Homo sapiens: one gene and its partners. The protein of the gene in region 1 interacts with the protein of each later gene in a pairwise test. Each region holds a gene or a part of one and is shown in the gene's direction. Other genes may lie near its edges.

The links.
Region 2: the proteins of TMBIM6 (region 1) and GJA8 interact in binary tests that used the Homo sapiens proteins (3 or more experiments, as listed by UniProt).
Region 3: the proteins of TMBIM6 (region 1) and TEX29 interact in binary tests that used the Homo sapiens proteins (3 or more experiments, as listed by UniProt).

Annotation. Positions count from the first base shown.
Region 1 is NC_000012.12:49,744,462-49,748,113, forward strand, and holds part of TMBIM6 (bax inhibitor 1), read left to right. Parts: exon of another isoform or gene 1-81; intron 82-3,652. UniProt on the Homo sapiens protein: Endoplasmic reticulum (ER)-resident protein that confers cellular protection as an anti-apoptotic protein by limiting multiple stress-inducing pathways surrounding the endoplasmic reticulum and mitochondria.
Region 2 is NC_000001.11:147,901,194-147,904,945, forward strand, and holds the start of GJA8 (gap junction alpha-8 protein), read left to right. Parts: upstream 1-1,601; 5' UTR 1,602-1,668; intron 1,669-3,752.
Region 3 is NC_000013.11:111,341,137-111,344,788, forward strand, and holds the end of TEX29 (testis-expressed protein 29), read left to right. Parts: intron 1-1,619; coding exon 1,620-1,795; intron 1,796-2,946; coding exon 2,947-2,987; 3' UTR 2,988-3,112; downstream 3,113-3,652.

The DNA of each region.
Region 1 (3,652 bases):
TGTTTTCCAAAGATGGTGTTCGAGACCAAGGAGAGAAAGGCTGTCTCCTTGACTTAAAGGTTACCTAAGTGACCCCTTGAGGTAGGTTCCACTCTGAGCCAGCTGGGGAATGTTGATTTGAGGTTACAGCACTCTTGATCTGATAATAGGGTCTAAATTTGCTCTAGAGACTTTGTAGTGCTTAAATCTTGGGGATAGCTGAGCTGAACCAGATGCAAGCTCTGCCCTCAGGGTGAGAAGTTTCTGCACAATTAACTGGAATCCAAAACACGTGAAAAAGGAGCTTCACCAGTGAGGGTGAAGTGGGTATGCTGTTTGTCTTAATTTATGTGTGCTCCCCATTTGGGCTAAATATGGTGTTATTAGGGAGGGATTACTGGTTTATACTGGAAGAAGATTATGTATTTAGGATTTTGGGGCCTTCTTAGGATTCAGTATCTGTCAAACGTTATAGAGAGGGAGATGAAGTAGTGTCAACGTTTGGTACAAAAAATAATTTACTGAAGGCAGTAGGCATTTCATCTCCAGTTACTGGTTTGGTTTTGAGGCAGCCCCCTGGAGGAGATGGATTCAGTATTAGCTAATCCAGGGATTTGGGTCCAAGTTAAGGGAGAGGCGGGGACATCTAGGGTGTCCACCTGGGAAGATCAAAGCTTGGTCCTAGTTGAATGAAACAATTCCTTGGATGGTTCCGAAACTGAACTGACCTACCTCCTGGGAGTGGCAGGGAAAGCATCAAGCTTTTGCGCATTTACTTCATCAAATCCTTTACCATATCAGATTATCACTTAGTGGCTATTAGGCTGTCTCAAAATGTCCATGGCCCTGTGGGACAAGAGAGATAGTATAAATGTGCTAGAAGAAAGGTATGCCATTTAAACAAAAGTACAGACGGGCCCCAATTTATGATGATTGGACTTAATGATTTTTTACTTTATAATGATGCAAAAGTGCTACCTGTTTGCTAGAAACTGTACTTCAGGCCAGGCATGGTGGCTCATGCCTGTAATCCCAGCACTTTGGGAGGCCGAGGTGGGCAGATCACTTGAGGTCAGGAGTTTGAGACCAGCCTGGCCAACATGGCAAAACCCTGTATCTACTTAAAATACAAAAATTAGCTGGGCATGGTGGCACACACCTGTAATCCCAGCTACTTGGGAGGCTGAGGCATGATAATCACTTGAACCCAGGAGGCAGAGGTTGCAGTGAGCTGAGATCGTGCCACTGCACTCCAGCCTGGGCAACAGAGCGAGACTCTGTCTCAAAAAAAAAAACCCAGCACATTTAGAATTTCCATCTTTTCCCAGACTAGGGATATCTGGTATGATATTTTCACATGAGATATTTAACACTTTATTATAAAGTAGGCTTTGCGTTAGATAGTTTTGCCCAACTTCAGACTAATGTAAGCGTTCTGGGCACATTTAAGGTAAGGTAGGCTAGGCTTAAGCTATAATGTTTGGTAGGTTATATGTAGTAAGTGCATAAATTACGATACTTTCAGTTTACAATGGGATTATTGGGATGTAACTTCATTGTAAATCGAGCATCTATACTTTTACCAGTAATGAGATTTTTCAAGTGCCTTTATGTTTCAGTTTATAATTTTCTTTTCTCTCTTTTTTTTTTTTTCTTTTTTGAGACAGAGTCTCACTCTGTCGCCCAGGCTGGAGTGCAGTGGTGCAATCTCGGCTCACTGCAACCTCCGCCTCCTGGGTTCAAGCCATTCTCCTGCCTCAGCCTCCCAAGTAGCTGGGATTATAGGCGCCCACCACCACGCCTGGCTAATTTTTTGTATTTTTAGTAGAGATGGGGTTTCATTGTGTTGGCTGGGCTGGTCTCGAACTCCTGACCTCAAGTGATCCGCCTGCCTCAGCCTCCCAAAGTGCTGGGATTACAGGCTAAAACTAGACTTTTAAAAGAGAATAATCTACTGAAGATATTGTAGTAATGAGTACACCAGTAATAACAATGTTAGTACACCAGTAATAACAATGGTTACCATGTATTGAACTCATTCTATGTACAAAGAGCTATTTTAAGAACTTTATTTGTATTATCTCACCTAATCTGCAACCTTAGGAAATAAGGATTGTTATGTACTAGTATTTTACACATGGTAGGTGAAACTGAAGTACAGTGAGGTTAAGTGCCAGCAGCTTGCTGCATGTCCCACTGCTAAGGAAATAACTAGGATTCAGAAGTAGCAGGCAGTCTTAACCACTATGCAGGGGACATGGTTATACAGTGTATGAACATTACTCAGTAGTAAAAACTAATGAATGGAAAGCTTTCTTGGCCAAAAACACAGAAGAAGAAGAAGAAGAAGAAAAAAAACTACTGACAAATTACTAACAGTTCTTCCCCCTCCTTTTTTTGTTTTTGTTTTTTTGAGACAGAGTCTGGCTCTGTCACCCAGGCTGGAGTGCAGTAGCGCAATCTCGGCTCACTGCAAACTCTGCCTCCTGGGTTCAAACGATTTTCCTTCCCTAGCCTCCTGAGTAGCTGGGATTACAGGCGCCCACCACCACATCTGGCTGATTTTTGTATTTTTTTACTAGAGACTGGGTGTCACCATGTTGGCCAGGTTGGTCTCGATCTCGTGACCTCAGGTGATCCACCCACTTAGGCATCCCAAAGTGCTGGGATTACAGGCATGAGCCACCGTGCCCAGCCCTTTCCCCTCTTTTAAACTATATGGGATTTTTCTTCTAAGTATCAATTTGGTCCCTTCTAGATATGTGGGAACAAGGTTCAGGATGGTTGAATTTATACAACAGGAAGAAAGAACCATGTAATTGACAAACTAATTTTTTTGTTTTAATTTTATAAAACGGTTTTGCTGTGTTGCCCAGGCTGGGGTGCAGTGACACATTTTTGCTCTGTTACCAGGCTGGAGTGAAGCAACATGATGATGGCTCACTGCAGCCTGAAATTCCTGGGCTCAAGCAATTCTCCTTCCTCAGCCTCCCAAGTAGTTGGGACAACAGGCGCACACCACCACACCCAGCTAATTTTTTAATTGTTTGCAGAGATGAGGTTTTGCTGTGTTGCCCAGGTTGGTCTGGAACTCCTGGGCTCAAGCGACCCTCCCACCTTGGCTTCCCAAAGTGCTGGGCTCACAGGTGTGAGACATTGTGCATGGCCTTTTTCCTTTTTTGTTTTTTGGAAGTGAACATAACCTTGAGACTTTATTGTCTTCATAATAAAACATAAACTGATATTTAATTAAATGTGCGAACAGTGTTTCTTTGACTTGCTGTTTTAATGTTGCTGTACACACTGAGGCAAAGTCTGTCTTGGCTCCAGCATTGCATAGAACGCATACTAAATCCACGATAGTTTTGTTTTGCATAGCTTTTGGCTACTTCAGCATGTTTCATGTTCACTGTAGCTCCTAGGTGTGTGGGAATAGGACTGAAGAGAATGGTTGTGTTTTTTTTAATTTTTAAATTTTTTTTACACGTAGTCTCGCACTGTCACCCATGGTGGAGGGCAATGGCGTGATCTCAGTTCACTGCAACCTCCGCTTCCCTGGCTCAAGCGATTCTCCTGCCTCAGCCTCCTGAGTAGCTGGGACTATAGGTGCCCGCCATCACGCCCAGCTAATTTTTGTATTTTTAGTAGAGACAGGGTTTCACCATGTTGGCCA
Region 2 (3,752 bases), on another chromosome or scaffold:
CAAAATAACCATTTTTTATACTACCAATAGTCAGTCCCAGATGATGGGACGGGAGTGGGCCTCAGAGAGCATATGTCCATGCCCTCCAAGCATCATTCCTCATTAAGCCACATTAGAATTTAATCCAAGAGCCTCCTGGTGAGCAAAACCATCATATCCCCATTTAACAGATGAAGGCACTAAAGTCTAAAAATGTTAGCTGACATTGATTGAACTTCCGCTACTCAAAAGTATATGTAATTATAAGTGAAACGTGGTGAGAAAGGCTATTACTTTGACAAATGGCACCAGAATTCTTTGGAGTGTTAAGGCTCCTTTCAAAGAGGGAGACCACCCTGCTGAAGGTTTGTTTGTGTTTCTTTTTTATTGTTTTGATCTTTTTAGAAAGCTCTTTCCTTTTATGTTTAGTTGACACATAATAATTGTACGTATTTGTGATACACAGTGATATTTCAATACATGTATACAATGTGTAATGATCAAATCAGGATAATTAGCATATTCAGCATCTCAAACATTTATCATTTCTTTCTGTTGGGAACAATCAAAATCCTCTCCTCTAGCTTTTTGAGACTATACAATAAAATAGTTAACGGCCAGGCATGGTCGCTCATGCTTGTAATCCCAGCATTTGGGGAGGCCAAGGCGGGCAGATCGCCTGAGGTCAGGAGTCTGAGGCCAGCCTGGCCAACATGGTGAAACCCCGTCTCTACTAAAAATAGAAAAAAAAAAATTAGCTGGGCGTGGTTGTGGGTGTCTGTTATCCCAGCTACTCAGGAGGCTGAGGCAGGAGAATAACTTGAACCTGAGAGGCAGAGGTTGCAGTGAGCTAAGATCGTGACATTGCACTCCAGCCTGGGTGGCAGAGCGAGACTCTGTCTCACACACACACAAAAATATAAAAATTAAAATAATTAATTAATTAATGTTAACCATATTCACCCTACAGCACTGCAGACCACCAGAACCCATTCCCCCTATCTAGCTGTGCTTTTGTATCTATTAGCAACATGCTCCCCATCCTTCCTTCCGCCACTACACTTCCCAGCCTCTAATATCCACAATTCTGCTGAAGGCTTTGAGAGACAAGAGCAAACCACCAATAAAAAATGAAATATGGTCCTTTGGAAAGGACCAACCACTCTTGGTGTGACTCAGGGCAGAGGGATTCACACAACTGACCACTTACTGTCCCTACATCATTAAGATTCTCCCAGCTGATGATAAGGCCTTGGGAAAATGCCCCTAGGCTCATGCGCTCTGGAGAGACGCCAAAGGTTTACTGATGTACAGGCCCAGTCTGCTGCTAAAAGAAACTTTGGGAGGCACAGAAGCCCCAGCTAAGCTTTCACACATCAGCTTTCCCCATCCTCCTCCCCTCAGTGCCCAACACAGCTCTCCCATTCTCTCACTCCCATTGTTTCCCAAACATCCCTCCCTTCATAAAAGCTGTCTGGCTGGGAGCTTAAAATATTGCTGGACAGTAAAACCTACCCATCAGGGCCAATCCAGTCATATCTGCTCAGTCGTGCAGCACAGTAGGGGCGGGGTAGAGAAGTGGGAGGTGGGCTTTTAGGCAGCAAAGGAAAGAGACGAAAGTTGCCATTTTGCTGCTGAGCGCCAAGAGAGAAAGAGCACATATTTCTCCGTGGGACACTCCTTGTATTGGCAAGTTTTCCTTGGGTGATATTAGTTTGTAACCTTCCCCCCAATTGTTCTTTCTCAGCCTAATCTAAGGGCCATATATAGGCTTCTCCAAAAGGAAAAAGGTTGCCAATAAGATTCAGTCTTGGGCTGGGATGGCTAGACTTACACTCCAACTCTGAAAACCCTCTTCAAGTTGACCTAAGAACTGGCAGAGGTTTGGAAGGGAGAGGAATGCTGGAATAATCAGCAGGATGGGGAAACAGAGATGTCCAAACTCAAACTACAATTTGACTTCTTAAGCTCTTTTCATGTCTACAGGAATCCACAGGGACCTAAACCAAGTATTTGATATTTATGAAAAAGTTTTGTGCCCTTTTCACTCAAATTCTACAATAGAAATAATAGTCATAATTACTGAATGCTGTGGGGGTAGCGGAGGCTTCGTGCTCAGCATTTTCCATGTTGGAGCATTTAATGGAGCACAGGAAGGGATCTGGCTAAGGACCATAAAATTCCTCCTAGGAGCAGGTTCTGTTGTCTATCTATGAGAACTGCTGGCTAGTGGCTGTTCTAGAAACTAGAAAAGAGGCACTTTCCACCTGGTTACCAACCAGAGTGGTAAGTGGCCATTGAACGCTTTGGATAACTTATTAATGGATGTATATGTGTTATTCTGCCTCTTCAAAACCAGAGGAGGGCTATGCTGTAATGGGCTTAGATCTAGAAGACCAGGGCTCACAGCCTAGCTCTGCCCTCACTAGCTAAGCCCCCATCTTGGAGACTCATTTCACCTCCCAGCCTGTCTTTTTGTCTGGTAATGGGGATTGATAATGCCAAGTTCACTGGTTCTCAGACATCCATCTGGGGATCTGTCAGTTCTAGCTCAAGATGAAGGTTTCCACAACCTGTGACCAAAATGTGACAATGATAAAGTTAACAATGTAGTAAATGTTTCACCAAGTTAAGTGTGTTCAATTTAAAGGCTTGTCTTTTATTCTGAAGTTATGTCCTCTCCAGTTTTGTGGTGTTAAAATCCCCTTTTATGAAATGATGATGAAAATAGACTGTAGTTGTAGTTAGTAATTTAATAACTCTTTTTTTTTTTTTTTGAGACAGAGTCTCGCTGTGTTGCCCAGGCTGGAGTGCAGTGGTGTGATCTCAGCTCACTGCAGCCTCCACCTCCTGGGCTCAAGCAATTCTCCTGCCCCAGCCTCCCAAGTAGCTGGGATTACAGGTGCCCCACCACCGTGCCCAGCTAATTTTTGTATTTTTAGTAGAGATAGGGTTTCACCCTGTTGGCCAGGCTGATCTTGAACTCCTGACCTCAAGTGATCCTCCCACCTCGGCCTCCCATAGTGCTGGGATTACAGGCATGAGTCACCACGCCCAGCCAATAACTCTTATTTTTATGTCCTTGTTTGGCAAAATAAGGAGTTGGTATCCTTATGTTGGTCACACTAGTTTGTTATTATTATACTAGTCTGTGAAATCTAAGTCTGAGAACCACTGGCCTAGTTCACAGCTTGTTATGAGGACTGAAATAAGATACGTGAAAATGTATCACTTAGATCAAGGATACCCAAACATAAGGTGTTATTTTAATCATTACCTCTAGCCATCATTTTCTGGTGGGATGTTCCTGGCCATATATGGACACCCTGGGGTTGGAGGCTTGAACTCTATCCATTTATTTTCCATCTGTAATAGGTCTGTTCACTAAATTTTCACAAGCAAAATAAAACAGAGAATTATCTCTGAGAAAGAGAAGAGAAATAGTCTTCCTTTGGTTCAGATTTCTCCCTGCTCCCACAGAACGCTTTGCTTCTCTGATCTGACTTCCTTTAAATTTTCACTGTTAGAAGTCAGGAAACCAATACATTTCCCTTCGCAGCTCTAAAGTGTCTCTCCTTAACAGCACAGTAGGCCTGTTTCAACATCATGGGGTTGGAAAGATTGTGTCCTAAATTACAGTTTCTCTCCTTCAGTTATCACAAGAAACTGTAACTAGACATTTAAAAAAAAATACAATCTTAGCATGGCGGCTTAGAGTATAGAAAGACATGGGCTTGTTTGGCTTTGGTTTCAAAATTACTAATGAGTGGTCA
Region 3 (3,652 bases), on another chromosome or scaffold:
TAGTGAGCACCTGTGCTTGTTGATGAAAATCATAACCCGTGTTTAGTGAGCACCTGTGCTTGTTGATGAACATCATAACCCGTGTTTAGTGAGCACCTGTGCTTGTTGATGAACATCATAACCCGTGTTTAGTGAGCACCTGTGCTTGTTGATGAACATCATAACCCGTGTTTAGTGAGCACCTGTGCTTGTTGATGAACATCATAACCCATGTTTAGTGAGCACCTGTGCTTGTTGATGAAAATCATAACCCGTGTTTAGTGAGCACCTGTGCTTGTTGATGAAAATCATAACCCGTGTTTAGTGAGCACCTGTGCTTGTTGATGAAAATCATAACCCGTGTTTAGTGAGCACCTGTGCTTGTTGATGAAAATCATAACCCGTGTTTAGTGAGCACCTGTGCTTGTTGATGAAAATCATAACCCGTGTTTAGTGAGCACCTGTGCTTGTTGATGAAAATCATAACCCGTGTTTAGTGAGCACCTGTGCTTGTTGATGAAAATCATAACCCGTGTTTAGTGAGCACCTGTGCTTGTTGATGAAAATCATAACCCGTGTTTAGTGAGCACCTGTGCTTGTTGATGAAAATCATAACCCGTGTTTAGTGAGCACCTGTGCTTGTTGATGAACATCATAACCCGTGTTTAGTGAGCACCTAAGACTCTTAAGAGCTCTGCTCAGCCTTTTCAGCCCTTGAAGCCACTGACGATGTAAGTGAACTTACTGTCCCCGGACTGGGATGATTGACGCAGCATCGAGGGGGTCCCGAGGCTGATGGATGGGGCAGTGAGGCTCTAACTCAGGCTCCCAGTTGTCTCAGAGTCCCTGAACCCAAGGCTGCCTGCATCTCTTGGCCTGTGGCCTGCGTCCTCATTGCAGGGTGTCAGGGTTTGGAGGTGTCTCAGAGATGAGTCCACTCCCTCTCATTTTAATGGTGAGGAAATGCAGACCCGGGGGGCCAAGGAAGCAGGTGGCTATTCCCAGGGCAGGGCTGGAATCCAGCATCTCACTCCCCGGCCACCACCTTCACCATGAGCCCACTCTGTGTGCATACAAGCCCCTGAGATTATTTGAGTCTCTTTGTCCAGGAATGAGTAAAGCCATTTTCCTACCATGAGTGGTGCTGTATGCTGTCTTATGTGTGTTAATCATGAAGATGAGCCGGCAGTAGCCTGCAGTGCAACACACACCTTCCCCCTGCCCGGAGCTGTCTTTGGGAGTCTAGCTGCCTCATACAGCCATCTGTTTGGAGCCTGCACAAGAAACTAAAATGAGGCTGGATGTGGTGGCTCATACTTGTAATCTCCCAGCACTTTGGGAGGCTGAGGTGGGAGGATTACTTGAGCCCGGGAGTTGGAGGCTGCAGTGAGCCGTGTTTGTGCCATTGCACTCCAGCCTGGATGACAGATCAAAACTGTCTCAAAAAAAAAAAAAAAAAAAAGAGAGAGAGAAAGAAACGAAAATGAGAACTATTACATCAAAGCATTTACCTTAAAAAATAAGTATGCATGATCAGGAACCTGTGTTTTCAGAGGGATGTCCTGGTGGGTGGGAGGGAGGAACTGGAGAGTTTTCCATCTGTAACTTCCCTGACTGTGATAAAACCCTCTTCCCATCAGAGTCATTCAGGAGAGCAGGAAAGAAAAGGCCATCCCTGTGGATGTCGCGCTGCCACAGAAGTCCAGCGAAAAGGCGGAGTTGGCCTCATCCAGCAGCAAGTTAGGGCTGAAGCCTGCGAGTCCTGGGCCTCCAAGTGCTGGGCCCTCGATGAAGAGTGACGAGGATAAGGATGATGGTGAGAAGCTTCTGGAATGATCCTCAGCCTAAGGTCAAGGGCGTGGCTCTGTTCCCTCGGGAGACCTTCCCTGGGAAGGGGCTCAACATCTACACAGGCCCTTCAACCTCAGTGATCAGTGTTGCAGTTTGTTCAAAATTGTAATGTACCCAACATTGGAGGTTCAGGTTTGCAGGGTGGATGTGGCTGTCAGTGTGAGTTTCCTTCTGTGAGTCTTGTCCTCCCCCTTCCCATCCCCTTTTGCCTCCCTGTCATTTCACCCTCTGGCGGGGCCCTCATTGTTAGTGTGGGAAGCTCCTGGGGAGGGGGCAAGAGTCCTGCAGAAACTGCACATTTGATCAGGTGACTTCCTGTGGGGAGGCTGCAGGGCTGCCATGGGTACTCTCTGTGGCACCCTGGCCACGTGGTGGTCTTGGTTGTGCAGGGAGGCTGCCAGGCTGCTGTGGGTATTCTCTGTGGTGCCCTGGCCGCCTGGTGGTCGTGGATGTGCGGGGAGGCTGCAGGGCTGCTGTGGGTACTCTTTGTGGTGCCCTGGCCACGTGGTGGTCGTGGTTGGAGAGGTGGACGATCACTCTATGCCTGCTTCGGTTTCCAGGAAGGAAAGTTTCTCATATGTTGGTTTACCTGCTTTGGGGGCCCTTGGAGGTTGCCGGTTGCTTTTCCTAGATCAGCACCTTGCCAGGTTAGAGAAAGAAACATCTCAAATGGTAATCCTTATCTTCAGAGATGTTTGTACAGGATACAAACGGCCTGGCCTTACCCATTGTTACCAAATAGACTTGGCTTTACAGGGACCATCAGGAAAATCAGGAGGCAGGGTAAGAGGGCAACCCACACTTGATTTCAGATCTGGAATGCCTGGCCCCTAACTGAGGCTGCGTCTGTGCAAATGAGGCTTTCCTGCAGGACAGATGTTTGCCTGGTTAAGGGAGCCTCCTGTGTAGAGAGATGATGTGGGAGGAAGAGTGTTTTACTGTCCCCTAGAATGCAATGAGAAACATAGGAGGATACGGCCATCCCCAAAACTGGCTTTTGAATCAATCATTGCCAATCAGACACCATGTAGATGGGTTCAAAGATCCTGATGAAATCTTTTCGGGACTGCTGAATATTCCATTTGAAAAAACAATTCTTCTTTTCTAAAAATCTAGTAACAGGGACAATAACAGAAGCCGAAGAAACTGAGGACTGACTGAGACGCATGAAGAAGTGGAGATTGTCAGAATTATCCAAATGAAATGGTACAGCAGGTGCACTGTTAACAGTGTGATGGAATGACCACCCAAAGAGAAAAAAATAAAGGTATTTTGAAAATTGCTTCTCGTCCGATGTTGCTTATTCATTGCTATATTTTTATCTTAGGAGAGAGAAAGCCTGTGGGGTAGGAGAGTGGGAACCTGAACTTTCAGTTTTTAATGGCACTGCTTGTCACTAATATTAACACTATGGGGGCTCACAGCATGGGCTCAAGGTGGTGTCCTCGAGGTCTTCTTTTCAGAAGGCAGGCTGCACTTTCACCAAGAGTGGGCTGCCACACAGACACAGGCGGTTCAAGACTCTGGCATTTGGCTTTGCTAGGACTCAGCCGTGCTGCGAGGGAGGAGCAGCGTCTGGATCTGGATCTGAGAGGCCCCAAAGCATAGGCCGTAGCTGCCTGAGAGCCCCTCATGCAAGGCAGTGCGCTCAGTCCCAGAGTGGCCGACAGATGCTCACAGGCACGCGCAGGCCGGCCCAGGGCAGCCCACGGATCTTGGAGGCTCCGTTTTCTCACCTCAAAAATATGCATTCTACCCAGGAACTGTGGCCCTTATGTCCATGCATTGCAGCTTTAAGAAAGGATAATAAACAATCCAGATA